Regions from separate parts of the Homo sapiens genome. Here all the other regions are reported to be linked to region 1. The links are microRNA targets in miRTarBase. Many come from high-throughput screens and were not tested one by one. Region 1 holds a microRNA gene; each other region holds the end of a gene's coding sequence.

Region 1 (5,900 bases):
GAAGGATTCTATCATGTATGAACGAATGTTTGTGTCTGCTCCCAGCCACCAAATCATGCGTGGAAATTCCAGGCCGGGTGTTGTGGCTCATACCTGTAATTCTGTTACAGGAAAGGGGTCCAGTCCAGATCCCAAGGGAGAATTCTTGGATCTCGTGCAAGAAAGAATTCAGGGTGAGTCCACTGTGCAAAATGAAAGTAAGTTTATTAAGAAAGTAAAGGAATAAAAGGATGGCTACTCCATAGACAGAACAGCCGAGGGCTGCTGGTTGCCCATTTTTATAGTTATTTTTTGCTTATATGCTAAACGAGGGGTGTATTATTCATGCCTCCCCTTTTTAGACCATGTAGGGTAACTTCCTGATGTTGCCATGGCATTTCTAAACTGTCATGGCACTGGTGGGAGTGTAACAGTGAGGACCAAAGTCACTCTCTTCGCCATTTTGGTTTTGGTGGGTTTTGGCTGGCTCCTTTGCTGCAACCTGTTTCATCAACAAGGTCTTTATGACCTGTATTTTGTGCTGACCTCCCATTTCATCCTGTGACTTAGAATGCCTTAACTGTCTGGGAATGCAGCCCAGTAGGTTTTAGGCTCATCTTACCCAGCTCCTGTTTAAGATGAAGGTGCTCTGGTTCACTTGCCTCTGACGATCCCAGCACTTTGCGAGGCCAAGGCGGGCAGTTCACTTGAGGTCAGGAGTTCGAGACCAGCCTGGCCAAAATGATGAAAACCCGTTTCTACTAAAAATACAAAAACTAGCTGGGCCTGTAATCCCAGCTGCTCTGGAGGCTGAGGCAGAATGGCTTGAACCTGGGAGGGGGAGGTCGCAGTGAGCCAAGATCACACCACTGCACTCCAGCCTGAGCAGCAGAGTGAGACTGTCTCCAAAAAAAAAAAAGGGCGGGGGGTGGAATTCCAAACACCCTCTTCCCCCAAGAAGTGATTGTATTAGGAAGTTAGGAGGTGGGGCCTTCGGGAGGTAATCAAGATTAGATGGTCATGAGGGTGGGGCCCTCACCCATGGAGATTATAAATGTCCTTAGCCGGCCTGTCTCACTTGTTCAGAAACCGGAAAAGTCCGTGGTCTGCAGTGTGGAAAAGGGCACCCGGACCTCTTACTTCCAGCCTCTAGTCTGGAAACTTTGTCTAAGGTACCCCATCTACATTACTTAGTCACAGCCACCCTGAACCCACTAGCCTGTACTGCGCTGGAGCATTTCGCATAAAATGAAATTAACATAAAAATGACACGTGCTCGTTGTGGAAAAAATACCAAAAAGATCACTTTTAATTCTGTCATCTAAAAATAACCACCAGTTACATTTATAAATTTCTTCCAGTAACTTTTTTATATGAACATGTTTTTAAACTTGGGTCAATATTAAAAGACCAGAAGTTGTTAAACATCATTTTAAATCCCCTTATCCAGGAATTAGCATTGTTATTCTTGGCCGCAGCAGAATATTATTTTATTCCCTCAAGCTTTCCATGGCTTGGGTCTGCCCTGGTTTTGAACATTAGGTTAGGCTACAGAAAGCATTCTGGGTCTCTGGCCCATTTGTTTCTTTCTTTGTGGAGACGGGGTCTGGCTCTGTTGCTCAGGCCTGTCTGGAACTCCTGGGCTCAAGCGACACTCCACCTCGGCCTCCCGAGTGGCTGGGACCACTGGCGCCCGCCGCCACCGCGCCGGCTCCGGGCCTCTCTCTACGCGTGGCTCCGCAGGCTCCATTCTCCACACAGTCGTCTAGGGGGGCGCCAGGAGCCCCGCGACGGGCCAGGCCGGAAGCTCAGCAAGTGCACCAGGCGGCGAAACGGCCGGCTGCGCAGGGCAGCCCCGGACACAGCCACGCCGCGGCCGCCCGGCGCTCCCCCGACCCAGCCGACCACGAAGCCGCCCTCCCCCTCACACCGCAGAACCTTTCTGCCTTTTACTACTTTTCAAAGTGGACCTAGGCTCCTGGCTCGAGCCTGAGGGGATACAAGGGATCACGAGGAGCGCCATCACCGTGCAAGGTCGACAGCTTCCGCTCAAAGCCCTGTGGCCCACGCTTCCGGCCTCGACCGACTACGTCATCACCAAACCCCGTGATACCTCACTCCACCTTCAGGTCCTCCGTCCCAACGGTTCCGTGTCCTGGAACTTTCCACGTTCCTGCGCACGCGCTCTGCGGCCCTTAACGTCCCGACTTCGCCCTCCTCTGGCCACGCCCCTGCCCGTTAAGGGCCCTGCCACCCCCGTGACGTACCTATCTTCCCTCGGGCAACCTCGCAACAGATCTCTGATTGGCTGACCCAGGAAGCGGACTTTGCGAGGCGGCGGCGACGATAGGCTGGCAGCCGGCCGACTTCCGCAGAAGGTGATTGGTCGGCGCTGCTGTCCAATCGGCGGCGGGCTGTCGGATTCAAATCCGGATCGTTGGGACTGCGGTCGTTAGTCTCCGGCGAGTTGTTGCCTGGGCTGGACGTGGTTTTGTCTGCTGCGCCCGCTCTTCGCGCTCTCGTTTCATTTTCTGCAGCGCGCCAGCAGGATGGCCCACAAGCAGATCTACTACTCGGACAAGTACTTCGACGAACACTACGAGTACCGGTGGGCGCCTTTCTTAGACCCCGAGCCGGCTCCCTCAGCCGGGGCCCCCGCGGGCGGGGCGACCCAGGCATAGTAGGGTCGGGGGTGGGGGCCGGGGCCTGGGGGGCGGAGCCCGGGGCCGGAGGGCGAGGGCCGGGGTTTGGGGTCGCGGCCACCTGGCGCCCCGCGCAGTCGGACATGGTTGGGTGCCTGGCCGCGCCGGGCCGGTTGGGCCTTTGTTCGGTGTGCGCGGAGGGTGAGGGAAGAGTGCCCACCGGGCCGCATTTAGTACCTGGGTAGGAACCGGCGCAACTTGGGGGTCATGGGGTCCTCGGCGACGCGGAGTGACCATCCCGTCACTTTTTTCTCGGCCGTGGCCGAAGTAATTAGGCCGTTCAGTAGCTGGTCTCAGTTCCAGTTCTTTGAACCAGTCCAGGAAAACCCACCTGGTGCCGTCCTTTTTCCTTTAGCAACCGTGACACACTTTCCCTGTCGCTGACGGGGTGATGCAGCTTTTACTAGTTTGTGGTTTAGAATGGTCAAATGGTCATTTTCATCTGTTAACACAGAGGAACACTTTTCTTTTTCTTGTTTTTGAAGTGAGTGGTATAAGAATAAGCTTTGGAGGCGACCCCCCGAAAAATGAGCTTGATGGGGATTCGAAAATGTTTACTGGGTATGGTGATTTGGGCCATTATAGGTTAGCCGCAGTCATACAATTGAGGGTATTATTAAAGGAGTTTCATTTTAAGGCCGATTAAGAACTTGAGTGGACTTTGGGCATCATTTTCTGCTAGTATACACTGGCCAAATTTTGGGCTTTGAGAAACTTTTGCGTTTGAGTCCTGAAGCACCGTACTAGAACATGGTGGCTGTAATCGATCAGTAAAATTAGACAAATTTTAAATGTCCCTGTCCCCTTCCCCCCAATTAAAGTAGATTGGGGGAAAGCGAGTAGGGACATTTAAAATTTGTTGTCCTTACTGTATGCGGGACACTTCATTTAGGGCGTGGCTTCAGAAAACAGTCAACCCCTTTTTCTTAACTAGGTAGCGACTAGAACGCTGCGTTCTGGGATACTACCAAGATTTAGGGGAGATAAAGCCCATGCCATCGTTGGCCAAATTGTGACCTTGTTTTCTGTCTGCTGCCTTTGTAGGTTAGATTTCTCCGAATGCTATTTAAGGAAGAAAGAACAAAACAGTGGGTGGTTTCTCTTTTTCTCCCCCTCCCTAGTAGCATGGAAGTCTGTTTTCACATGAGGACTACTGAATATTTCTATGGGTAGTAGTAATTGCACCCTTTTGTATTCCTAGCTAGAAAAATAGCATGTTTTTCTGGCTGTAGGTAAATTTCAAGTAGATTGTGTTAACCTTATAGTAATAATAAACTATACTCGTGTAATATGCTGGCAGTGTTCAATTATGCGATGTTAATCAAGAGCCCTATTGAGGATATCCAATAATGAACACAATGTAAACCGTAATAATCTTACTAAAACCTAGAAAATTATTCTGAAACACATCTGGTGCCAAGTGTTTAGGATAAGGATTTAAGGGTCGGTACAAGTTTCTTTTAGGGTATAATATTGAAAATAAATGAAGCTATTTCTCAGACTTCTTTCTGATGGCAGTAGGTCGATTTTTTAGTTTTAATATACTCAAATGATTTGTGTGTGGTAATGTATAGAAGAAAGTTTACATATCTGAAGTGATGTATTTTAATCCAATAAAAATTAGAGCTGGTATTAATTGGCCAAGCCAGTAACCTTTATGAAACAGGATAGTAATTTCCACACATAATTTTAAAGGGGAAACTAGTAATAATATAGCACTAAGGCATGAGTCTAGGGTGGTTTGTATTAATATGTAATGGTGCAGCATGCAATGTAAATTTCAAAGGCTAGTATTTATTTTTCCCAGTGTGCAGTTATCTCTATCTTTCTTTGATTTTTCTTAATTACAAACTTAATTTCCTAGTCCTTTTACGTGAGGGTCTTAATGTTTCTAAGGGCATAACAGTGGGTGCCCCCACCCCCACATCATGGAAGTCTGTTTTCACAAGAGAAAAACTGTTAATTTTTCTGGGCAGCCTTACAAATTAGTAATACTTGCACTATTTTGCATTTCAACTGAAATAAACGTTAGATTTTGGAAATAATTTTCCTTACATGTAGTTAGTTTGAAATCTCTGTGTGGCAAAATACAGGTAGAATCCTCATATGGGGTTGATGCTACTTAAACATTTTTCCTTTATAAAGAAACCCTGATGGAGGAGAGCCTGTTTCCGTGTTTATGGAGAAGGGTGGTAACTTCTATCTAAATAACTTGTTGGTAGATTTATGTACTCTGTAAGTTTGATAGAAAAGGTACAAAAGCACTACATTTCTCTTTGAGAATAATCAACAAGATAGAACGTAGAAATAAGATAACAGATTATTTGAAGTTAGATGTTAAAGCAGCATTTCAAGAATGTGGGTGATAACTGGTAAGAATTACAAAGAATCACTATATAGTTCACTGGAATTGATGAAAACTCTACAAATTATGGTAGTAAGCTATGACTTGGTGGCCTTAAGGCAATCTAACAACACAGTAGAATTTTTCTGAGGCTCACTTTGCCCTGCAAATAAATTGGTACTTAACCACAGACTAAAATTTAAGTTGATGACAGCTGGGTGCTTATAGCGGGTTAGGGATTCAGTTTACTGTGTCTCAGAAAGTGACCAGATTGCACCTCATTCATCCCCAGCCAGCTGACTCACAGACAGATATCTTATACTGGTTAAAAATTTGGGTTGGTGGTTATGGATGGTTCAGTATAAAACTGTTGCTACTACTGCAGGTGGTAAACATGGAGCTGAGAATTGTGACTTTCATAAAGTCCTTTTTATGGTAATTGAGTAAAAATTCTTACTCAATTTGGGGAAAGAGATTTGTTAGGCAAATCTTTGATAGAATGCTTTGGGATACTGTTAATGATACAGATTTGTTTTTGAGAATCTCGTAAGGCTACAATTATACATATTGATGGTTTAACTTTGAAGGTTATTCCATGCTTGCCTAAGAAACTGAACAATGTAAGTTTTGGATATAGGTCAGTAAATTAACTGGAAAACGGTGAGGTTGCACACAATGTGTATGTACAGTTAGTGGTTTTCTGTTTTTAATTTTGAACAAAGTACTTGAAGTATAAAGCAACTTCTGGAGCATACAAGGACTAGTAGCTACTACAAAGCTAGTGTTGAGTAAGAGGAAACCCAAATTAACTGTAACTTAGATTTTTTCGTTACATAAAAGTCTAATAATCTGGGGCAGGGATAACAGCTTTACAG
Region 2 (5,900 bases), not on the chromosome of region 1:
TTCACCATATTGGCCAGGCTGGTCTTGAACTCCTGACCTCAGGTGATCCACCTGCCTGGCCTCCCACAGTGCTGGGATTGCAGGCATCAGCCACCATGCCTGGTCAAAAATTATTTTTAATTATTATGAATACATAAGAGTTGTACATATTTATGGGGTGCATGCAATATTTTGGACACAGGTGTATGATGTGTCACAATCACATCAGGGTAATTGGGGTGTCCATCACCTTGAATGGCTTGCTTAACCTCATCAAGCCAATGTCCCTGGCAGATCTGATTGAGCTGAGCAAGGGTCAGCCTGGCAGGTTTCAGAGCATTGAGTGTTTAATCCACTTGGCGGTAAGCCCAGCCGCAATTGGGCCTGCACTGCTTTCACCAGGAACCACCAGCCCTGTGACCTGCCCCTTTTCCTGGCCTCCCTTTTGTCATCCCTGATGGGAAACCAGACCTCAGCAACTTGATCTTGCCTCTGACTCCTACTCAGAACAAACATCTCTAGATGTTGGCTGAATTTCTGTGGGCACCAGCAGGAGAGTCTGCTCCCATCTGTGCAGAGACCTTGGAGATCTGATTTCTGCCTCACCTGAACTTCACCCACTTTCAGCTCCAACGTCCTGTTTTCAACCAATGCCAGTTCAAGAGCATTTTCCCCGATGCAAGCTGCGTGAGGGAGCCCAAGTTTAGGGGCTGGCAAGCGGAGGTGGCACTTGTCAAGTCTCTACTACGTGCCAGGTACTCTCGATGGACTGTACCGTTAACATCTCTCAGCAACTCTTTGAAATATTTATTACTCCAGCTGAGGAAACTGATACTCAGTGAGGCTAAATGACTTGGCCAAGTTCCCATAGCTAGAAAGTGTCAGTCAGAATTTGAATGCTGGACTTAATTGAAATTTTGGCTCGCGTTCTTTTCAGGGCAGATGCTTTCCAACACACCATATAGCCACTTACAGAGTGTTTTATTTCAATGGGGTCAGCCAGGGGTCAGGGGTGGGGCAGCACAATTAGCTAGATCAGGTGTACTAATATTTATGAAAACTTTCCTCCTGTATGTTCATCTCAGTCTGTTAGGCTTGTCTGCATATAAATGAAGATCAACCAGTTTAAGGATGGAAATTAGGCTTCTTTTTAACCGCCACCCATGACTGACTGGTGGTGGCTCCCTGGAACCCTGGGTTGAGAGGGACTCAGAGGCTGCTTGTAGGTTCTGTAGGAAAGATGCCGTATTGATTAGTGATGTCTGCCAGGAGCACAGGGAGAATGGCAAGTGTCTCCAGCTGTTCCTGTGAGGCTTCTAAGGACATAATTAGCACCTCTCTCCACCTAGTGGCAGCTAGCTAAATTGCCACCAGGAAAAACTGATCAACTTTTTGGGTAGTGGTTTTCAAAGTCATCATGAAGGTGGAAATCACAAGGCATCAACCAGGAAATATTTTCTTTTTCTTTTTTTTTTTTTTTTTGAGGCGGCGTCTTACTCTGTCACCCAGGTTGGAGTACAGTGGTATGATCTCAGCTCACTGCAACCTCCACCTCCCAGGTTCAAGCTATTCTCCTGTTTCAGCCTCCCGAGTAGCTGGCACTACAGGTGCACGCCACCACACCTGGCTAATTTTTGTATTTTTAGTAGAGACAGGGTTTCACCCTGTTGGCCAGACTGGTCTCGAACTCTTGACCTCAGGTGATTCACCCACCTCGGCCTCCCAAAGTGCTGGGATTATAAGCATGAGCTGCTGTGCCCGGCCAGAAAATATTTTCAACTATACACCTTATCCTCAGGGTTTAGCAGAATCTGTGGGGAAAGAAATCTCCCAAGTGAGACTAACATGCCAGCTTTTGCTTTTGAGGGCACAAACAGGAAATGGTCTCAAAGAAAAGAGAATTATCTGTGGGACAGAATTGATGGCTCCTTCTTGAAGTAACCATTACTGATAAATTGCTTAAGCACTTTGGGGATGGATTATAGTGTGATTAAGAATTCTAGAGGCCGGGTGTAGTGGCTCACACCTGTAATCCCAAAACTTTGAGTAGCCAAGGCAAGTGGATCACCTGAGGTCAGGAGTTTGAGACCAGCCTGACCAACATGGCGAAACCCTGCCTCTACTAAAAATATAAAAATTAGCCGGGTGTGGCGGCAAGCACCTGTAGTCCCAGCTACTCGGGAGGCTGAGGCAGGAGAATCACTTGAACCCGGGAGGTGGAGGTTGCAGTGAGCAGAGATTGTGCCACTGTACTCCAGCCTGAGGGACAGAGGGAGACTCCATAATAAAAAAAAAAAAAAAAAAGATTTTTTTTTTCTGGAGAGTCAGTTGCTGACTCAGTTCACCTTCAGGACTATCGAGAATCTCCAATGAGAGAATCATTGTAGGTTGGAAGGTGCTACAATGCAAGGGAGGCATTTGATGGTCCATGCTCATCGATCAGTGTGTGAAGAACACTGGATTCTGGGAGTCCAACGATCGAACTCCTTTCCTGGTATTGCCTTTGTTTAACACTGGACATGGCATTTTCTTCTCTGGACCTTGGTTTCTTCATCTGTCTAAAAAGTGAGTTGATTGAACTAGGTTGTGGCTCAATTGTATGTTCTCTTTTAGCTTTGGCAATTTCTGATTCTGCAACCACCTGGGACGTTTCCCAGGTCTTGTAGCAGCAGGAGGAGGATGAGGATGTTGCCCTCCTGTTTGGTAGGCACCAGCAAAAAGTATTCTTCTAGAAGGGTTTGGAGTCAGCCAAGTTACCTTAGGCCCACCTGCCCAAGATAAAATCCACCATAAAGCAAACTCCTCGTGGGCAGAGAACACATCTGTCGCCAGTGCCTGGAACATAGTAGATGCTCATTAAGTACTGACTATCAGAATAGCATATGTCCTGGTGGGGAGGAGGACTTCGCAGAAACCAGAAAGGAAAACTGCAGACCACTCGTTTTCTTGGATGCTCCTACTTTATTTTTGGCTACATCATCACAAAGAAAGATGCTGGGTGGTTGTGCATGCACCGGAGGACGTGTGTGTATTCTAGGCAGGGAGGTGGTTACATTTGTCGGGGACAGCGGGCACCCAGACTAGGGGCACTGTGAGCTTGCTGCATGCTGATTCCAGCGCCTACACCAGCATCAGGCTTGGGCGACACAGCCAGCATGCTGTCTCCTAAGGGGAAACTGTGGTGAGGGAGGTGGGCTGAGAGTAGGTGCCACCAGGGACTAATGGGGAAAGATAAGGTCAAAAGGAAAGATGGCAGCCAGGAAGCTGTTGGCCACCTTGGGGAAGGTGAAGAGCTCGATGTTTAGAAAATGGTTATTCAAGGCAAGAAATGAGTCCTCCCATGAATTGTGCAGGGAGCTGAGGGTGGAGGGCGTTGAAAAGTTAAGAGATGTGATTTGGGGAAAGTGAGAGTTTGAGTATCTGTCTGATGCTTCTGTAGAGAATGTCAGGGGTTTGGGATGACTGGGAGTGATTTTCATGAGGGAAGACTTCATCAAAATTGGGAAAATCGAACCTTTCTCACAGGGCATTGAAGATTGCCTGACTTCAACCTCAAATTTGTAATGTTTGCCCACATTGCCTTTTCCTCCTTTATAAAATAATTTTTTTTATAGGAAGAAAGTGAAAGATTGATGATGAGCCCAAAGCCTTTGGCATCAGGCCTGTCTCTCTCTACTGTTCCATAGCCATGATATTATTTGATTCTCCCAGGAAGCTTAGTAACGAGAGTGCAGGAGACAGAGAGACAGACAAAGAGAGACAGAGAGACTGGAGGGGGTTCTGAGTGAGAGATGGGATGCAAAAGAGTCAATGAAACAGAGTCAAGGGCATTGGGGAGGAGGGTAGCTTGTTCATTTACCTAAGAGCGGAGAAAGGAGAAAGGCTGGAGGCTTTGGCTGAGGCTTCCTCAGACCCATGGCCCTGGTCTTCTAAATGCCTCCGTGCCCACCCGGGGAGCCCACGGATGAGAGAGTCCTCTATGGGGCATCTACACAGCTTGAGGGATGCTGCCATGCACTCAGGGCAGTGCCAGCCATTGGCCCAAGCCCTGGGAATGTCTGGTTCTGCCAACGGGAGGAGTGGGTCAGTTAAGAAGCGTGGGCCCAAGTGGAATCTCAGGTTTGGGCCAGTTTCTCAGTTTCCTGGTCAGGCTGGTGAGAGCAAGGGGGTGAGGCTAGGTTAACATACACTTTTTTTGCTGTTGTTTTTGCGGTGTTACTGCTTTAGAGAGAGAGAAAGGCAAAGGGAAGAAAGGCAGGGAGAGAAAGGAGAGGGGAGAGGCTGAGAAAGAGAGAATCTACTATCATGGAAGGGAAAGAAGAGGGAGGAGGAGAAAAGGTGACAGAGGAAGGGTTTTTTGTTGTTGTCGTTTGTTTTTGTTTTGCTAGGAAGCACACAGGTGACATTCGGAAAGAGGAGAGCGTCCAAGCCCCTGGTGAATTCTGTGCATTTGCATCCTGGTGCACTTGGAGCAGGGAGGGTGTGTTACTGAACACAGCAGTCTGTTTTCCTGGCAATCAGGGTGTACATCTCAGGGGGCAGTGGGAGCCCGGAGGCTCTATTTGTGCCCCAATGCTTCTCTCACAGCATTGTCCGGGTCTGCTGACAACTGGGGATATACAGAGACACAACACAGGGAATGAAAGGGTGTGTGTGTGTGTGTGTGTGTGTGTGTGTACATGTGTGTGTTCAAGGCTAGGAGGGTCTAAAAACAGTCCTAAATGATGAAGAACCTTTGTAATTTACCCAAACTGAGAGGTTATTAAATGATCAACCTCTTTGTAAACGTCTCCCCAACCCCATCCCCATTGCTCCATCCCAGGGATGAGAGAGGGGCTGTATTCAGAGCCCACATCCCAGCATCAGGGAGGAGGGAGTCTTTGGCAGCAGTGCCCAACGTGACGGGGGCTCAAAGGCAGGCTCAGGGAGATCAGCAGGGTATGGGGGGAGGTAGGCATAGAGAAGAGAGATCAGGGTGCGGTGGGCAGCTAGAGCAGGCTGGGGGGGACCCGGGACATGGAGATGGGGACCTGGGCACTAGCCTAATCACTTGACACGTGGTTCTCATTCTGTAGCTGGTGCCAGCGCTCTATCTTCTTGTCTTTATTTTTCAGACACTCGTACCAGTGTTTTAAGCGCTCTCCCTTGGCAGAGATCCCCAGCTGGCAGCCTCCTGGAGGATAAATGGGAAGATAGGAGCAGGTGGTCAGAATAGAGGTCGTTCTAGACCCAAATGTGTAGTTGGGGAAAAAACTGCACCAAGCAGTGACCCCCAGCAACCTGGGATCCATACTCTATAGAGAGTTGTTATAACGTTGCTGCTGTTGTTGTTATTATTATTACGGTCCTTCTCTGCCTCAAGAACCTGCAATGGCTCCCTACTGTTCCACTGAGTCATAATTTCACTGTCTATTTTTAAAGGCTTTCTACAAATCACCATTCTACTCACTGAAACTTATCTCCCACTACTTCTGGGAACTCATTGTCTATTTCCAAAAAGGTTCATCATCCTGCTCAATCCTGTCTTTACCCCTTAGCTCAGGCTCTGTCCCTTGCCTGGAGTCCCCACCCCCCTGCTTCATCTTTAATTGATTTTCTTCCTCATGATTCAAACAGGAACTAAAAAATTAAAAATTTTATCCTGGACATGCAAATAAATTAAGAATTCTTTTGCACCCTGCTTTCTGCAGAGAACGCAAATCTCTCCTGTGATTTAATTACCCCACTGGAGGTGATTTGTTCAACAAATAATCAAGTTTTGTAAGGCTTTTCATGTAAAGACATCCCCAAATTGGACCAAGGTCAAGATCATGGGTCTCAATTTAGCATTTGAACAATGAGGTTGCCAAAAGAATAGCAATGACCTCAACTCTCTGTAGCCCTGGATAAGGCTCTCCTGTTCTGGGGAGGACAGAAGAGGG
Region 3 (5,900 bases), not on the chromosome of region 1:
AGAGCACTCAAGTCAAAAACTCCAGTTGTAACTAATATTCCTCTGTATTTATTGGATCTATAGGCTATTAAGAAATCACATGACACCACTGTATAAACACAGCACTCTATGAACATAAATCTTGAATTGATTCAATACATATTAAGGCAGTCAGCTGGTCTACACAGTGCGAAAATAAAGAAACAGAAGGGAAGTCAGGCTGAGGCAGAATCGCTTGAACCCGGGAGGCAGAGGTTGCAGTGACCTGAGATCATGTCATTGCACTCCAGCATGGGTGACAAGAGTGAAGCTCCGTGTATATATATTAAAAGGGGGGGGGGGCAGGGGGAACATTTAATTACATTTTGCTTGCCTGAGTTTTATCAGTGTATAAATGTCACACTAGAACCTTAAGAAATCATGAACTCACAAATTACTTCCCTATCACGGCTCCCAATGTTCAGTAATAAACACACACACACAACTTGGAACACCTGTGCTCAATTTTAACCATTATTTTGCCAGTGCCTTCAGTGCAGAGTACTATTAGTAGAACCAACAATTTCAGATTTATGTCAATGTTGAAATACAAAATATATTTCGTCCTGGTTTCCTCAAGACTGGACAATGTTTGATGTTAACTACAATACAGAAAAACTTAAATAAAATAGACAAAATGTAAAGAGGGTAGGCACTACATAGCATTTTATCTTTGTCATTTGTATTTTGATCTAACATTATGTGGATTCATTTGGTTATTCTAACAAGTTCTCACCTCTGTATTTTTAATATCAACTTTCACAAAGGCTGAAATTAAAACATGAAAAGTGTTGGATAAAAGTCAATAAACCTGTGGAAGATATGCAAGATTTCTTTGTACACTATGAGGGAGTTGGATTACTTGACCTTTGGGTTCCTTCAGACATCACTAGATCTAACAGATACAAAGTGCTCAAGATAAGGTTTGCTGACTGAATCAAGCGAGCCTAAAACTTAACCTGAAAATGGCAATGGATTTTTGTTCCACACATAGGATAATCCAAAAAAGTGTGATTATGTTCTCAATAAAATGTTGATATATTACAGAAAAAGCCATATTTTCATGAGCGTATTTTAATTTTTAAAATTTGAACAATTCAAGTAAAAGTCAGCTAGATAACATAAATACAGAGTAAATGCACATAATTTACAGCCATGTACATAAATGCAAGATACCAAACCTCACATGAATAGTCAAAAGTTAACACTTTTGAGGTTCACTATTTAGCTATGACTGATAGGTCATAATTCTTCACATAAACGGGGTACACATTCCAAAAGTTTATAAACACAAAAACTGAGTCAAACCAGAATTTTGTTTCTACAAGGAGTAGCATAAAAATCAGTGTGTAGGTTAATGGGAAATACTAAGTACATGATGGAGAAGAGATCTGAGTGGGCAGAAAGTTTGTACATTGTATTTTATGTATTAAAATTCCTCAAATTTAAATCATTCAGAAATACCTATATTCTTAGGAATGTTAAAGTCATTATATATTTGAGGAGAAAAGGCTGAACTGTACTTATCAGCTCCAAAGGGGGTCCCTAGATTACTAACAGTCTGGGCAGAAGAGCATGTAAACAACAAAAGGCAGGCATGGACAATTATTGAAGGGCAAGAAATGGATTGATTTTTAGCACTTAAATCCTTCAAATCCGAATAAATATTTTTAGTGATTTAAAACCAACCTAAAAATGCTGAAATGTCTGTAACCCAGTAATAGAGCAAACATTATTTTTACCAACCCAAACTCTGCTGGTCCTAACATAGTAATGCTATCTCACAGATAATCTAATGATATTCTATCCTGACTTCAAAGTTACAAATTCACTGTGGTGGACCCATCTAGAAAGGATGGTTCTACAAAGTTACATAATGAGAATCAAACGAACTTTTGGTGATAGTTTTTTTCCTGGGATTAAAACCACTGCATGGTATCCCGAAATCACAAACGCTAATTCTTCAGATTTGAACTTTGAAATTTAAAAGTACAACAAACTAAATAATGTGGACTCTACACCAGAAATAAAAAAGTCATGATAAACAGATGAAAACAAGTTAAAAAAGTCCAATGCTCTGAATATGTGTTTTTGTTTTTAAACATGAGTCGATTTTTTAAAAACTTCAAAGAAATATTTCAGAGACAAACTTTATATACAACTTTTATATATAGTTTTCCTTTTTGAATTATCTCTGTCATACATAAACTATTGCAGATTGTGCTTAGGGAAAAATACAACTGAAATAAACTTCATTGCTCCTTTCTAGTTGTTGCACAAATAAACAATGTCCAAGACTCTAAGATTTCTTTGCTTTCCAGTACATACATAATACTGTTAAAAGCTGAATATAATGCACTAAAGGTCAACACAAGTTTTACTTGCTAAATACAAATAGAGAATATATGTTTATCCTTGAAGGACACTTGTTATGAATATGCTACAACTAAATAATAAGATGTTCCTTAGCTGCTGGTTTTCATATCATTCTTAATCATTTGTGGGGTACTGAGATCAGTAAGACTAGGGAGAGTCTCTATCTTACATTCAACACAATGAATGTTTATGGGTCTTCACAAGGCAAATGGCACTGTATTAGGCAGTAGAAATGGCACCTGAAAAGGCAAACACGATAGATTCAGACCTTCTCTACAGATTTGTTACAAACCGGTTTTTGGTACGTTCCTCATAATACATGTCAAAGCTGAAATTTACCATAAAAGGTACGAATAATTCCAAAGGTAAGAAAACTGATTTTGCCTTTGGTCTCCAAATAGATTGGAATATTTTTATTCCAATTGAGCACCTCAAAAACATCCAGTTACTGTTGATCACAAGGAAGTTAAAGTGGGGGAATTTAACAGGGCACTATGTTTCACTGGTGACAGCAGAGAAAGCTTGCAATGACACGCTGCAATATTCTATAATGTTGGGGGTACGACAGGGTACACAGAATACCTAAAACATTTATATTAAGGATATCCGAAACAACATATTTAAAACCCAGAAAAATGTTATGAACACTGTTTCTGCCTAATACGTGACCAATGTTTTTGTTTTTTTTTTTAATCTTAACATGGTATTCTCTCCTACTCTCTCACCCTCCCCCCCAAAAAAGGCCACAAAGTGCTTTCACGAAGCGTCATTCTTTTAGATAAAGCCATTGCACAAAATGTACAGTTCAGGTATACTGAAATGAGTACCACACCGGCGTCCAATTGCGGCAGTTTTTATACACCAGTATGGCATAGGCGAAGTCTTTTAACAGAATTACAGCAAACACCTTTATAAGGGCCATACAAATAACACATTTAAAGTATTAAAAGGTACAGCTGACTCAATAGCAGAATTTAAAAGCTACATCCTATTAGCACATTTAACCCAAATGAACTTGAATCTTTCTATGATTTACCACGCAGGAAACTAGGACAGAATAAATTTCTTGTCAAAAGCAGTTTGTTCATTTACACAAAACTATAAGTCAATTAATGTCACTACCTGCTAAAGCAGACAGCAAGGGGGCCCTTGTCTATAATATTTATACTGTCCCAAATATTGTCACCTTAAAATGGCAAAACTTTAAATTACTATTTTCTTTACAAAATAAATGTAATCTATTATATATAGACCTGGAAAAAACTCAAAAGTTCAAATTCTTAATGTGAAAGCAAGTAGGTAAAGATTCAAAAGTGAAAAAATCTTTTACACTTTATGTAAATGATACTTAAGTATGACAAAGAGGTGATAATTCAAGTTCGTAACTAGTAAGTCACTAAAAAGATAAATGCATTCATTCATGTACCACAAAATCAGAGAAGACACGAGGACATGCCGCAGTCAGTGAAAAAGCCGAGAAATCAACATTTTACTAGTTATTTTGTCCCAAACTATTACCATGTGTGTTTGGTATGTTAACAATTTAAATATCCACATTAGGCTAAACAACAAGCACCTGTCAGCAGTGGAAACCAAAACATTTTGATGCTAAAAAATATACAAGATATTTAGACGCTATTTCATTGGTTGTCAAAAACAGTGACTACTGCCAAATAATTAAATTTAAAATATTGTGCCAGGTCCTCTCAGGGAAATGTGAAAATAATACTGACGATCTCATTGTCATTGCTGTTATTTTACTGGAATTAAACAAAGGCCAGAAGTTATAAATTTATGACTGCCAATACTATCTTTGGATAGTTACAATACAGTATGTAAAATTAAGGATGGCTTTGTTTAGAAGACTGCCATAAATCAACAAAACCCAACTGTGTCTGGGGGACATGGTAGAGAAAATGGCAATTTTGAGAGAGGAGTGCTTCTAAAGGCATTTCCTTGGAGGCTCTGAGGTTTTTTTTTTTTTTCACATTACCGAAAGGCCAAGTAATGTGGTGTGATTACTATAATTCCTACAACAAAACTTCCACTTAGAATAGTTACATGTTCCCAAACTATTTTTCTTCTGTCTGCCATGCTGGCTTCTGTATCCCATGGTCCACTGTAATCTTTTGGTCTTCTTTTTTTGCAGTACAGCAGTCCTCGTGCTGCTATCCATTGAGTAGGTAAACCACCAATTCATAGGTGGCCATCATAATGGCTGTGTTTGGAATCTGTCTCACTAGATGAGTTGTCAGACCACGATAAAGAGACCCATAACCTTCTTCTTGAACAAGCAAAGATAGAGTCTGAAAAAAAGATCTGTATTTTGTTCCCTCTTCACGTAGTCTTGTTCTTACAACTTCTGTGTAGGAAAGAAATAAAATTAAACATTACTGATATCTTTACACTCTTCTAATTATAACTGAGCACATCCCATTTATCAGTCTGTAAGTGTAAGCTCAGGATAAAAAAGGATGGCTTCTAATGTGTAGCTTATTGAAACCAGTCACATTATAGTAACATCAAACTTCTAATATGGCCAAAATCATGTACATTAATTATAGACTTTATAGTCTTTGAATGTAAAAAGACACAATATAACAAGAGAGAAGTATCAGTTGTATGCTAGATAAACAGATAAAAGGAAGAATAGAAATGAGAAGGAGGAAAAGGTGAAGAGGCAGTAAAGAGGTGGCATCCAGGATGAATATAAAAAGGATACAGTGAGAAACAAGCAGAAAAGATTTGTTTAAAGTGAGTACTACAAAGAAACAATAGCATTATTAATCTATTCAAAACAGTCCACATATATGAATGTGAAACATCATGTGGACAAAGAAGTTGACAATGTTCCAAACACTAGCTGCCAGCTATAAAACCCAGTCTGGGAATCAGGTAAGCAAAAATAATAAATTTTTAAGAGCTGAATGAACCTTAAAGATTAGTCAGTCCAATTTTTCCTCATTTTAAAAGGTGAGAAATTGGAGCTACTGAGAAATTTTGGCCAGTTGTGGGTAGAAGCTGGGACAAGAACTCACAGCTTCCTATGTAACTACTTTTTTTTACATCCACTATTCCTCAAATTTTTTCAGCACAGTATTCCAGATGGGCCTAGGGAAATAGTCTAAAGCAACCCACAGCAATTGTAACTATTTACTTGAAATCTGTTCTGTCTTAAAGATTCGTGCCATTTAACTCCAAAATGTCCTGTTTGGACAGGTGTGGTGGCTCATGCCTGAGCCTGACTAGCATTCTGGGAGGCCGAGGTGGGAGAATCGCTTGAGCCCAGAGTTTGAGACCAGCCTGGGGAACCCAGCAAGACTATGTCTCTACTAAAAATTAAAAAATTAGCTGGGCATAGTGGCCTGAGCTCATAGTCCCAGCTACTTGGGAGGCTGGGGCAGGAGGATTAATTGAGCCTTGGAGTTCAAGGTTGCAGGGAGCTATGATCATGTGACTGCACTCAAGCCTGGGTGACACAGTGAGATCCTATCAAAAAAAAAAAA
Region 4 (5,900 bases), not on the chromosome of region 1:
GGCACCGGGGGCGTGGTGGTGTTTGAAGGCTGGTTGGCTTCACGAATGGGTGGTGCATGTCCACGCTAGGGGAGGCGCCCCTCTGACTGGGACAGCCAGGCAGATCTCCCAGGAGGAAGAGGCACTTCCATCAGGAGTGGCATGGTTAGCAAACCCACTTCATCAACTACAATCCAGCCCCGGACGGGGCCCAGGTTTCACTAAACTCCACACCTTCTGTGCGTTCCCGTCCCCTGGGGAGCGTATACCTGGGAGAGTAATTTCTCCGTGCCTTCCTTGCAGATTTACCCGGACGAAAGCCATTACTTTACCAGCTCCAGCCTCAAACAGCATCTGTACCGGTCCATCATCAACTTCTTCGTGGAATGCTTCAGGATCCAGGACAAACTGCTGACAGTCACAGCGAAAGAGGACGAGGAGGAGGACTAAGCTCAGGTCGCTCTAAGCACAAACGTGGCTCTTTCTACAACCAGATGCAACCGAGGGATTTCCCTGCCCTCCCTCTTCCCTCGGAGGGGCGGGGCGGGGCGGGGCCGGGTGTTCCATAGCATGTGTGTCTCGGATGCGGAAGGCAGTTTTGCTTGGGAAACAAGCTCCTTCCCCGGGGTCATCACTCACGGCCTCCATGGCACCAGGGACAACGCTGTCCCCGCAGCAGCGCCTCCTCCCGGCGCCCGAGAGACCGGCACGCCACGGCCCCTCCCCCAAGGAACAGAGCAAAGGATGGTGGCCGCAGGCCCCACGCGAGCCCACAGGACACCGGCCCCTAGATTCCAGCCACCAAGCGGAAGCATGAGACCCGCCCACACTAGCCTCTGTGTTCCCGTTAGGGACATCACACCCTGTCTCACGTCGCAGTGCCATGGACGCAGCAGTTACAGCACCATTGTTTTAGCAGTGCGTGTTCATATATGGGCTTGCTACTTCCTGTAATGAGGACGTTCAACATGGTGAGGGGCTACAAGAAAACGCTTTTCTGTACAGAGTCTTACTGTAGCTACGCTAATGGTTAACCTGATAGAATTAACTCGTATTTTTCTATGGTTTTAACCTGATGCTCCACTGTCTCCGTCATGGGGTTGTTTTGCTGTTTGGGGTTGGGCCTTGTTTCCCTTTCCTTTCTCCAGTCCACGTGTAGACTTTGCGCTTGATGAAGAAGCAGATCGGAAGTAACTGCTCCCTCCTCAAGGTTGTCTTCAGACGTCTTGGGGACGTTCCTAAACACTGAGGGGGAAGACAGCCAATAGCACCCATTAAAAGAAATACCTAAATAAAACCTCTCTCCCACTCAGCTATGCTAGGGCTTGGCTGTAGGTGTGCACTGTCTATTTACATCCGTCCTTACAACCATCCTTGTCCTCCTTGGTACCGTATCAAGCTCTTTCCCATGACATTTGGTTTAAAAAAAAAAAAAAAAAAAAAAAAAAAACAGAAAAAAGACAAAGCGTCAACTCCACCCACAGGCCCGCTGTGTGTGCTCGGGCCACGGGAGTCCTGAGGGTTCTGTGGGCCTGCGCGCATCCCTCTCCCATCGTGGGGGTGGCTCCGTGACCTTCCTGCCACGAGCAGGAGGTTGATGATGTGCTACGTTAGCCTTGTAAGATACACCCCCACCAAATGTGCAGCCGGTGTTCCCAGTGTATATTTCATTCTCTTGTATATAAAGGAAGCAATGTGTGTCAGGCCTCTGTGCAGTCAACCCAGCCTCCTCCCGCCAGTGCTAACCCCGTGTTGAGCCTGCATGCTGACACTGTGGCCGATCTGGACTCTAGAAGTGCTAGTTTGAAATATATCCATTACTGTCATTTCCTTTTGAGCTTGTGGACAAGCTGAATGTCAGGACTGACTTCGCCAGCTCCCAGCCCTGCGGGGGTGTCCTTGGCATCCCATCAGCAGAGGAGATGCGTCCCTGTTGCATTTTGGCGTTTGGGGCTTTGGGTTTATCCACATGAGCTCTGAACGTCCGTTATAGTTAGGGTGATTGGAAGGTCTCCATCACTGGGTGTTTTAAAGGTGATTCACCACCATTTGTGAAAGGACCAACGTGCTGATAAACAGGACCGATCCGAGTGCTACATGACTGTGCGTTTGCTATTTCAATGGGCCTGAACGACTACAAAGCCAGCTAGGTCTGGAAGGGGAAGCCAGCTCTGGCCACGACATCTGGTCGGAGGGAAGTGGGGATGTGGCATGGTAGCGTCTGTTCATCCATGGAATAAAACATTATTTTACCACTCGGATTGTTCCTTTCTTGCTCATCCTCCCCCATCGCACCTTAGAAAGTGTGCTAGGCTTCAGGAGACTTTCAGAGAACCCACTGGGCCCCTCCAAGACGGATGCATGGCCACAAGAGCCTGTTGTGTGCCAAATGAAGGTTGCATCCATGGTCGCAGCAGTCTGGGTAGTAGAGAAGGACGCAACCAGTCGAATATATCAAAGCCCCAAATCAGTCCAAGAAAACAAATTTGAATTTTGTCTTGGGAGTCTTAGGGTGGAGACGCAGAGCTATTCCCTAACCCTGAGAGTGAAATTGATTCTCAGTGGAAGCCATAGCATTGCCCACTAGAAAACTTTAATTTTTTTTTCTTTTTTTTTGTAGAGATGGGGTTTTGCCATGTTGCCCAGGCTGGTCTTGAACCCCTGGCCTCAAGTGATCCTCCTGCCTCGGCCTCCCAAAGTGCTGGGATTATAGGCGTGAGCCACCATGCCTGGCCTAGAAAACTGTAGAAAAATGTCTCCATCTGTTGGAAATGTATCCACTCATTTGCTGTTATCAATGTCGATGTAAACATGGCCCAGCCTGAAAGCCAAGGGATTGATTTAATTAATTAATTAATACTTCCCGACCATGGAGCAGCTGCTGCCTCAGAGATGGGGGATCAGTCCCATCAGCCCCGCTGAATTAGCTGATTCTTGTCACCCTCTGGATCAAGAATCATGGAAAGAATGGGGTGGGTGGAGAGGAGGAGTTAAAAAGGAAAAAGAAAGAATCAAATGTGAAAGGAGATTTTTAAAAACCAGACACAGCAGAGGCCATCTAAGTCTAACATACTCATTCCCCCCAAACAGTATCTCTGTGAGCCACCCTGGCCCTCTCCCTGGTCTCGCCCCAGAAGGAGGCCAGTGCCCCCATCCCAGCTTTCCATCCCTGAGTCCTTCCCCCGGACCAGGGCTTGATTTGTGGATAGGAGTTGACGGTTTGCTCAAGAAGGTGCATTTTCCCACTTTGGAAAACACTGAGTGTGGAATGACGAGCTAGGCCTGGCCCTGAGAACAAGTGTTGGCCGCAACCAGCAGGGACCACTCCGGTTCCCACTTGGAGAAGCTTTGGTCTTTCCCCAGCTCTAGAATGGCTTTGGGAAGACGCCGGCGTGGCCTCACCAGGCCGCCGCGGCTGTGGTTGCTGTGCCTGCCTGGCTCAAATCCCCCACTGCAGCCTTCTCTGTGTTTTCAAACTGCACGTGCGTGGCACAGTAGAGTGCTACTTTTATTTCCGTTTTAAATTAGGTTTTTGTTTTTTTTTTTTTTTGAGATGGTATGTCGCTCTGTCACCAGGCTGGAGTGCAGTGGCGCAATCTCAGCTCACTGCAACTTCTGACTCCCTGGTTCAAGTGACTCTCCTGCCTCAGCCTCCCGAGTAGCTGGGATTACAGGCAAGCGCCACCACACCCAGCTAATTTTTTGCATTTTTAGTAGAGACGGAGTTTCACCATGTTAGCTAGGATGGTCTTGATCTCCTGACCTCGTGATCCGCCCACCTCAGCCTCCCAAAGTGCTGGGATTACAGGCGTGAGCCACCGCACCTGGCCTAAATTAGTTTTAATACTGAACTTCCAACCAGGCAGCTATGGAATTCCCAAAGCACCATCAGGTTTCTCAGCACCCAGCTCCAGGCCCACAGCCCAACTCCTGGGCTGCCTGGGGCATCTCTGAGGCCATGGGCCATCAGGTTCACAAAGACATGCACGTGGGGGGACCTCCATCCCCACTGGCCTGAAAACATGCTCCTTTCCCTCCTGCCTGACCCAACCCACCCAGAAGCAGTGATTTAAGGGATTGATTGTTTTCGGGAAGCCCCTATTAAAATCCCCTCTGTCACAGAAGAGCCCGGAAGGACATTTTCAGAAGCTCCCTTGGTGCTCCCTCCTGGTACACAGCTGCGTGTTCGTAGACGGGCAGCTACGCCGAGACGGGCGCCTGGTGAGAGCCTGGATGTGCCCACGGACAAGGGCCAGGCCATAAATCAGGGCAGGGCTCCAACCTGCACCTGCAGACACTGCCCCGGGGCCAGGCATGGCCTCTGCAGCAGTTGGTCCCAGAGGTCAGGATTTGAGCAGTAAATACCAGCTTCCCTTATTCTCAGCCCTGCTTCTAACTGAGGACCAACTGGGAAAAGCCAGATACCCACAACCAATCTCCTGGGACGCCCTGCTTCTGAGCGCCTCCAGCTTCCCACTCCAGCAGCCTCCAGCCAGAGCATCCCTGGAGCCTCCTTTTCTCCACCGTGAAGCTCACCCACCCCCCCGTCCGAACGCAGGTAAGAGCAGTGAGCCCCTTGCTGGAGAAAGCTCTGGATAAGCAGCCTCTGCTCACACTCATTTTAGTACAGTCTTAGCCTTAGCGGCCATAGTGAAGTCCCATAGACTGGGGGCTTAAATAGTAGGACTTGATTTCTCACAGTTCTAGAGCCCAGAAGTCTAAGATCATGGGGCCAGCACACTCGGTTCCTGGTGAGGGTTCTCTCCCTGGTTTACTATTGATCGTCTTCTCCCTCTGTCTGCACGTGGCAGAGTGAGAAGGAGCGAGAGGGAGCAAGAGCATGAGAAGAGACTTCTCTGATGTTTCTTCTTACAAGGCACAAATCCCATCATGGGGGACACACACTTATGACCTCTTCTAACCCTAATCACTTCCCAGATGCTCCATCTCTAGCCATCACACCGGGGCTTAGGGCTTCAACAGTGAATTTGGGGAAACATAACATTCAGTCTGTCACAGGTGGTCTTTGTTTATTTTCACACTGGCATTCCAGGGAGAAAATAGGTGTTCTTTTATTTCAGAGAAGAGTTGCTGAGGGGCCTCTGGGGACTCTGAGGCCAGGGAAGGAGGGAGGCAGAGGAGGCGGACAGAGCCTCAGGAGACTGACCTCCCTGCTGGGGCTCCCCAGGGGTCCAGACAGGCAGACGGGCAGCCTTCCAGGGCTGCTCCCGAAGGCCTGGCTTCCCCTCTGCAAACCACAAGCTCCAAAATGGTCATTCTCCATCTGAACTCAGCCAGTGACACTATACAGATAGGGAATCTGAAGCCCAGAGAAGGCAAGGAAGTTGTCCAAAACCACGCAGGAAACAGTCACAGTCCTGCATTCCTTCCGCCCTTTTTTCCTGCTGTGTTTTCTTCAATGATAAACTCACAAGTCCTGGCCTCAGGGCCCCGGGAGTAGTAGCCAGCTGCCTTTCTCCACAGAGCTGGGCTGGGGGTGTCTAGCATGGTCCCTTGGGGTGCTCGTCCTCACCCGTGTGGGTGCCCCAAGCACAGTCTCCAGCCAACATGGAGCCTGGCTCAGTGGACATGGGCGTCAAGATCCAGGCTCTGAGAAAACCACAGAGCTATGGGTCCTTCCAATTCCTATCCAGCCAGGGATCCTTTCTAGAAATTCTCTTTTTTTTTTCCAACTTTTTTTATTTTATTTTTAATTATTATACTTTAAGTTCTAGGGTACATGTGCACAACGTGCAGGTTTGTTACATAGGTATACATGTGCCATGTTGGTGTGCTGCACCCATTAACTTGTCATTTACGTTAGGTATATCTCCTAATGCTCTCCTTTCCCCAGCCCCCCACCCCACGACAGGCCCCGGTGTGTGATGTTCCCCACCCTTTGCCCACGTGTTCTCATTGTT
Region 5 (5,900 bases), not on the chromosome of region 1:
GTATCATGAATTTAAACTCAGTCTACATTATAAGACCTCTTCTCTGAAAACAAACAAAATTGGCTTATGTGAGAGGCAAGCTATTGGTTTGGTAAACAAAGATGTATATATCTTACAGAAAGATTACATTATTTTCTTATTTCATCTGTATGTATAACAAACAATTTTGCTTTATAAGAGTACCAAAAATCTCCAGTTAATTTAGTCCTTTATTTTTTTCATTCTCCATAGAATATTGGTTTTGTAACATCGAATACAATCCAATATATAACATTAAAACAATCCGATACATACCATTCTGCTTTATGAAAGATCAGCAAAAATACATAAACAAGGATATAACTAGTACATTTATAAAATACATCATAACAATGAAACCAAAGGATCCCACACAATAATCTTCACATTTGACATGCTGGTTACAGCTGAGGAGAGCCAGTGTCTTTGGCAAGTGATTCATATACATAAGCGATGACACTGACTAATCCTAACACTTCTGAAATGTTCATTCTTTACCAGTTAAACCTAAAATAAATCAGCAAGAGTACTGAAATATAACAAGAATGAAATCCAAAATTTGTCGAAAGGGGCAATGTTTAATACTAGGAAGAACACTGAATTTGGGGACTAATTCTTGTCCCCAAGTACATTTGGATTCTTGTCTTCGTTCCTGGATGATCTTAGGCAAGTAATCTGTGCTATGAATCCTTCACTTTTAAAATGAGAGAGTTGGTTGGCTGGTTCTCTAAGGTCTTTCTAGATTTTAACTTTCCATGATTTTAAAATCTTTGACACAGGCTTATTTTTGTGTTGTAAAATGAAATCTCTAACAATACTAACTTGGCAGTTGGGTGGAATCCAGTGCCACCCACACACATCTGCTCAAATAGTTCTTTATCTTCTGAGCCCCAAGACAGCCCAGTCCTCAAATTAACAATGATGGCAGGCTTCAGGAGGCTGATGGCTAGTTCTCCGCCAGACACAAATGCAAGATAGATAGTTTTAAAGCTCCTGAAGTCATGGTTATCAGAAGAAAAGCTATAAAGGAAGAACTACAGGGAAAACCTACAACACTCTCTTTGGAAAAATGACAAAATAACACATTTACTGATGCACTAACGGAAGAAGGTAGGTGCATATATTAACTATAACACATAATTAATTTTAACTGTTATTGGTGAATATGCACAAAATATACATACAAATTAGAACTTGATCAATAAATATAAATTCAAGGTCTAGATGCAAATGGGAAGCTCTCTGATGCTGGTAATTTGAACAAGAAGTTTATTGTACTTTCACATGTTTCTAATTCTATGGGAAGAAGTTGGGATTCCTTTTACTAATGTTGGCTTCTGCTCCATTATCTGTAAAGTCCACCTCTTTCACATAATCGCAGAAATTAAAGATGTCCAAGGCCCCTGTAGGGCATTTCATCCATGTCATACTCTTATCAGATGACTGTCTTTTTGTTCTGAAAGAGTGAATGAGTGGGTTTTCATCATCTCTCCATTTGAAAGTCAAGTAAGCTTTATCTCTTCGGATTCAAGGTCTAAATTTGTCCTTGTTTCTTCCTAATATTTTAATGTAATTCCTATGTCAATTGTATTTACACAATTTTTAATATTTAACTCTGATTTGCATTATAGAAATTAGTCCACTTCAATAAACATGAATGTGCAAAACAAAATTACTCTGGAAAAGTCAGGTTTTTTAAATAAACATTATCCTTTTATTAAATTACTAAAATGTTTCTCATATAACAGTAATGATTATTCTAAGCAACTGCATGAGCCTTGGAAGATTCTTCATCTCTAACACATGTTCCTCTTTCAGAAAATATCAAAACTCTCATTTCTCTGTTGTCCACCTTCCTCCTGAGGGGACTCAGGCCACACAGGGGGTCTCTTCTGACTGAGAATCCCTAATACTGAAGAAGTGGCATCACCAGTGATATGGTTTGGCTATGTCCCCACTGAAATTGCAACTTGAATTTATCTTCTGGAATTCCCACATGTTGTGGGAGGGACCCAGGGGGAGGTCATCGAATCAGGGGGGCCAGTCTTTCCTGTGCTATTCTCATGATAGTAAGTCTCATGAGATCTGATGGGTTTATCAGGGGTTTCCACTTTTGCTTCTTCTTCATTTTCTCTTGCCACCACCATGTACGAAGTGCTTTTCACCTCCCGCCATGATTCTGAGGCCTCCCCGGCCATGTGGAACTGTAAGTCCAATTAAACCTCTTTTTCTTCACAATCTTGAGGAATGTCTTTATCAGCAGTGTGAAAACAGACTAATACAGTAAACTGCTAACAGTAGAGTGGGGCATTGCTGAAAAGATAGCCAAAAATATGAAAGCAAGTTTGGAACTGGGTAACAGGCAGAGGTTGGAACAGTTTGAAGGGCTCAGAAGAAGACAGGAAAATGTGGGAAAGTTTGGAACTTCCTAGATACTTGCTGAATGGCTTTGCCCAAAATGCTGATAGCAATATTGACAATAAAATTCAGGCTGAGGTGGTCTCAGATGGAGATGAAAAACTTTTTGGGAACTGGAGTAAAGGTGACTCTTGCTGTGTTTTAGCAAAGAGACTGGCAGCATCTTTCCCTTGCCTTAGAGATTTGTGGAACTTCGAACTTGAGAGAGATGATTGTGAGACGTGGAGTCAAAGGTGATCATTTTGGAGGTTTAAAATTTGACTGCCCTGCTGAATTTTGGACTTGCATGGGCCCTGTTACCCTTTTGTGTTGGCCAATTTCTCCCATTTGGAATGGCTGTATTTACCCAATACCTGTACCCCCATTGTATCTAGGAAGTAACTAGTTTACTTTTGATTTTACAGGTTCATAAGTGGAAGGGACTTGCCTTGTCTCAGATGAAACTTTGGACTGCGGACTTTTGGGTTAATGCTGAAATGAGTTAAGACTTTGGGGGACTGTTGGGAAGGCATGATTGGTTTTGAAATGTGAGGACATGAGATTTGGAGGTGCCAGGGGTAGAATGATATGGTTTGGCTGTGTCCCCACTGAAATCTCAACTTAAATGGTATCTCTCAGAATTCCCATGTGTTGTGGGAGGGACCCGGGGGAGGTAATTGAATCATGGGGGCCAGTCTTTCCTGTGCTATTCTCGTGATAGTAAGTCTCACAAGATCTGATAGGTTTATTAGGGGTTTCCACTTTTGCTTCTTTCTCATTTTCTCTTGCTGCCGCCATGTAAGAAGTGCTTTTTGCCTCCCACCATGATTCTGAGGCCTCCCCAGTCATGTGGAACTGTAAGTCCAATTAAACCTCTTTTTCTTCCTGGTCTCAGGTATGTCTTTATCAGCAGCGTGAAAACAGACTAATACAACCAGATATATATTTTATTGCATTTTGCCTGTTTATAACCTATATTGCAAAACAATAGATTCATTTTTGCCTTCCCAAATATAAAACTATTTTAATATTGAATATGCTTTTTCAAACTCTACAGCCCCCTTCTCTCCCTCATTCCTTATGAGATTTTGATACACTTCTTAATGGGCAAGAGATCTTTTTCTTGAGAATCACTGAACCAAAACCCAATTTCTGAATTATTATTCAGGATAAAGTGCAATAACCATGACTGAAGAAACAGTATTCAATTAAAATACAGAAATTGTCAACTGAAAAATAGTGCATGACAGAATATCCAACACTGTATTGAATATTTTCTGATTATTAAACCAAATTACTTAAACCTTATACTTGAAAACTAATGCACATTGGTTTTTAAAATGACCTACTGAAACCACCATAAAATGTATCTTTTATACAGGTTAATTATAGTAACAAATCATATTGCTTTACATTGTTAAAATAATATTTTCTTCAATCATATGACCTACAAAATTATACCCTTATTTTCCACTGATTCTCATATTTAAAACCAGAATTTTTAGATTTTTCTAAATAAATTTTCATCAGTTTTGACTTCGCTTGCAACTTAGAGTTGAATCTATAAAGTACTGGATAAAAATTGCCTACTATGTAACAAATATTTCCCTGATGCCACAAGATTAAGATTTAATAGGAATATAAACTATTTCTATAAGTAATATTGTACTTCAGATGCCTTTATTTTTCCAAATGATGGGATGAAACTTCTGTATACTCTGAAACTAGAATGATAATATAAATACCCAGCCAGGCACGGTGGCTCATCCCTGTAATCCCAGCACTTTGGGAGGCCAAGGTGGGCGATATCCAGAAGCCAGAAGACCAGCCTGGGCAATATGGTAAAACCCCATCTCTACTAAAAACACAAAAATGAACCAGGCATGGTGGTGCACACCTGTAGTTCCAGCTACTTGGGAGGATGAGGCATGAGAATCACTGGAACCCAGGAGGTCAAGGCTGCAGTGAGCTGAGATCGCGCCACTGCACTCTAGCCTGGGTGACAGAGTAAGACAGAGTAAAAATATATATATGTATGCGTATACAGCTTTAAAAACAGTTTTGGAAAAAAATACAGGTGCTTATTTCCCAAGTTTAAAAGTGGATCTCCTGTGCCTAAGTTAAACAGCCTGAAAAGAGAAAACCAAAAAGGCCAACACCAGGACCCTGACTAAGGGCTTCATTAAAATATTCGAATGCTGTGGAAGTTTATTCCCACGCAAGGCACTTACTCCCAACAAGACACAACCGTTTAAAATTTTACAGCAGTGACACCAGGGAGGGGTCCCACTCCTATAGACGTCAGTATTCTGCATCGATATGCTTTGCAATGGTGTTCAACTGGATGTTGGAAGCTCCTTCATATATCGTACCTTAAGCAAAAGGAAGCAGAAGGAACAATGAGGAGTTGGCGCATGGTTAAGACAAGAAATAGCTCTATAAACATCACCTCTGCGCTTGCTATAAAACAGTTACTAGTCACATCACTTCATGTCCCCTGAATATGGTACTATTTCACAGTAATTTTGACTAAGAGATGACAATTTTCCATTTGGTTTCTCGATGTCCAGGATCAGTATTAAACTGACTAAAGGTGTAAACAAAAGTTGAAGATTTTGATTCTTCAACAATTGATGCATAAGCTCAGACTGTTATTTGTGGCAGTTTTACTAAAAAGCCTGTTGAGGCATTTAAAAAGGCAATTTGATATTTTTTAAAAATATAGAACAATTTTTTTTGAAGGACGAGGTAAGAAAAAAATCCAGCCACATAAATAGAGCCACCAAACATATACTGAAGAAATTAAAATTGCTTTTACCTAGGAAAAAAACGACAAATAAAACAGCCAAAATACCTACAGAGGCAAATAAAACAAAATAAAATGTAAAAAAAAAAAATCTATTTACCAATCTTTGCATCTCGGAAGTATTTCTCCACAGGGTAATCTTTGGTGTAGCCTACTCCCCCCATCCACTCGATACATTTACTCGTTGTTTGTCCTGCAATCTACCAAAAGCAAGTGCAAATCACACACTGAAACCACATAACTTATACATGATAAACACTTCTGGGTAACATTTTCAGCAACATGGATTTACTGTTAGTGGCACTGGAAGGACTAAAGTTATCTTCTAAACTAGCATTGTCTCTTCAGTCCCATTCTCCATACCATTTCTGTAAAACATCCTATTAATTCACAGAATCCCCATTTTCTTAAGAAATTAGAGCATTGTTCACATGAATCTGCATGCTGAGAGATATCATTTATTCAGGAAATGTTTACTGGGGGCCTAACGGACGAGCTAAGGGACATTTCAAGCTGAGGACCAACACGTCGAAATCCTCCAAGGGGAGAATGAGCTCTTCAACTTCCAGCCCCTGAGACAGCCAGTGGGCTGGGATCGGGGTGAAATGTGAAAAGAGAATGGAGGAGCGAGAGACCCTGCAGAATGGCCCCTCAAGGACGTCCACATCCTAGCCCTCAG

Evidence for each region. The annotated mature microRNA hsa-miR-3153 reads GGGGAAAGCGAGUAGGGACAUUU and lies in region 1 at 3,510-3,532, shown strand. An mRNA with a match to its seed (bases 2 to 7 or 8) in the 3' UTR can be bound and repressed. Matches are read on the target gene's strand: a 7mer-m8 pairs with bases 2 to 8, a 7mer-A1 pairs with bases 2 to 7 and ends in A, and an 8mer does both.
Region 2: miRTarBase lists RPH3A as a target of hsa-miR-3153. Seed matches in the 3' UTR shown: 7mer-m8 at 4,291-4,297, 7mer-A1 at 3,480-3,486, 7mer-m8 at 3,378-3,384 and 7mer-m8 at 3,204-3,210.
Region 3: the mRNA of SLC25A36 is a reported target of hsa-miR-3153. Seed matches in the 3' UTR shown: 7mer-A1 at 1,377-1,383.
Region 4: miRTarBase lists DPP6 as a target of hsa-miR-3153. Seed matches in the 3' UTR shown: 8mer at 1,381-1,388.
Region 5: miRTarBase lists ACADSB as a target of hsa-miR-3153. Seed matches in the 3' UTR shown: 8mer at 2,428-2,435.

Annotation. Positions count from the first base shown.
Region 1 is chr9:89,308,765-89,314,664 of GRCh38, forward strand. It overlaps MIR3153 (microRNA 3153), which reads left to right and starts at 3,461; the gene lies at 3,461-3,542. It overlaps CKS2 (CDC28 protein kinase regulatory subunit 2), which reads left to right and starts at 2,431. Exons shown (of 3, transcript NM_001827.3): 1 at 2,431-2,587. The coding sequence starts at 2,529. LOC105376136 (a long non-coding RNA gene) reads right to left here and starts at 2,038. Exons shown (of 3, transcript XR_930101.4): 1 at 602-2,038; 2 at 94-182. RefSeq lists a silencer at 1,737-1,966 and enhancers at 1,977-2,266, 2,937-2,986.
Region 2 is chr12:112,895,902-112,901,801 of GRCh38, reverse strand. It overlaps RPH3A (rabphilin 3A), which reads right to left. Exons shown (of 22, transcript NM_001143854.2): 22 at 2,921-5,152. The coding sequence ends at 5,022. Among named protein-coding and RNA genes, the nearest start is that of OAS1, 8.1 kb to the left of the region's middle.
Region 3 is chr3:140,975,116-140,981,015 of GRCh38, reverse strand. SLC25A36 (solute carrier family 25 member 36) reads right to left here. Exons shown (of 7, transcript NM_001104647.3): 7 at 21-4,756. The coding sequence ends at 4,563. Among named protein-coding and RNA genes, the nearest start is that of SLC25A36, 36 kb to the right of the region's middle.
Region 4 is chr7:154,892,052-154,897,951 of GRCh38, forward strand. It overlaps DPP6 (dipeptidyl peptidase like 6), which reads left to right. Exons shown (of 26, transcript NM_130797.4): 26 at 283-2,234. The coding sequence ends at 429. Among named protein-coding and RNA genes, the nearest start is that of PAXIP1-AS2, 34 kb to the right of the region's middle.
Region 5 is chr10:123,052,582-123,058,481 of GRCh38, reverse strand. It overlaps ACADSB (acyl-CoA dehydrogenase short/branched chain), which reads right to left. Exons shown (of 11, transcript NM_001609.4): 10 at 5,322-5,421; 11 at 192-4,787. The coding sequence ends at 4,717. Among named protein-coding and RNA genes, the nearest start is that of ACADSB, 47 kb to the right of the region's middle.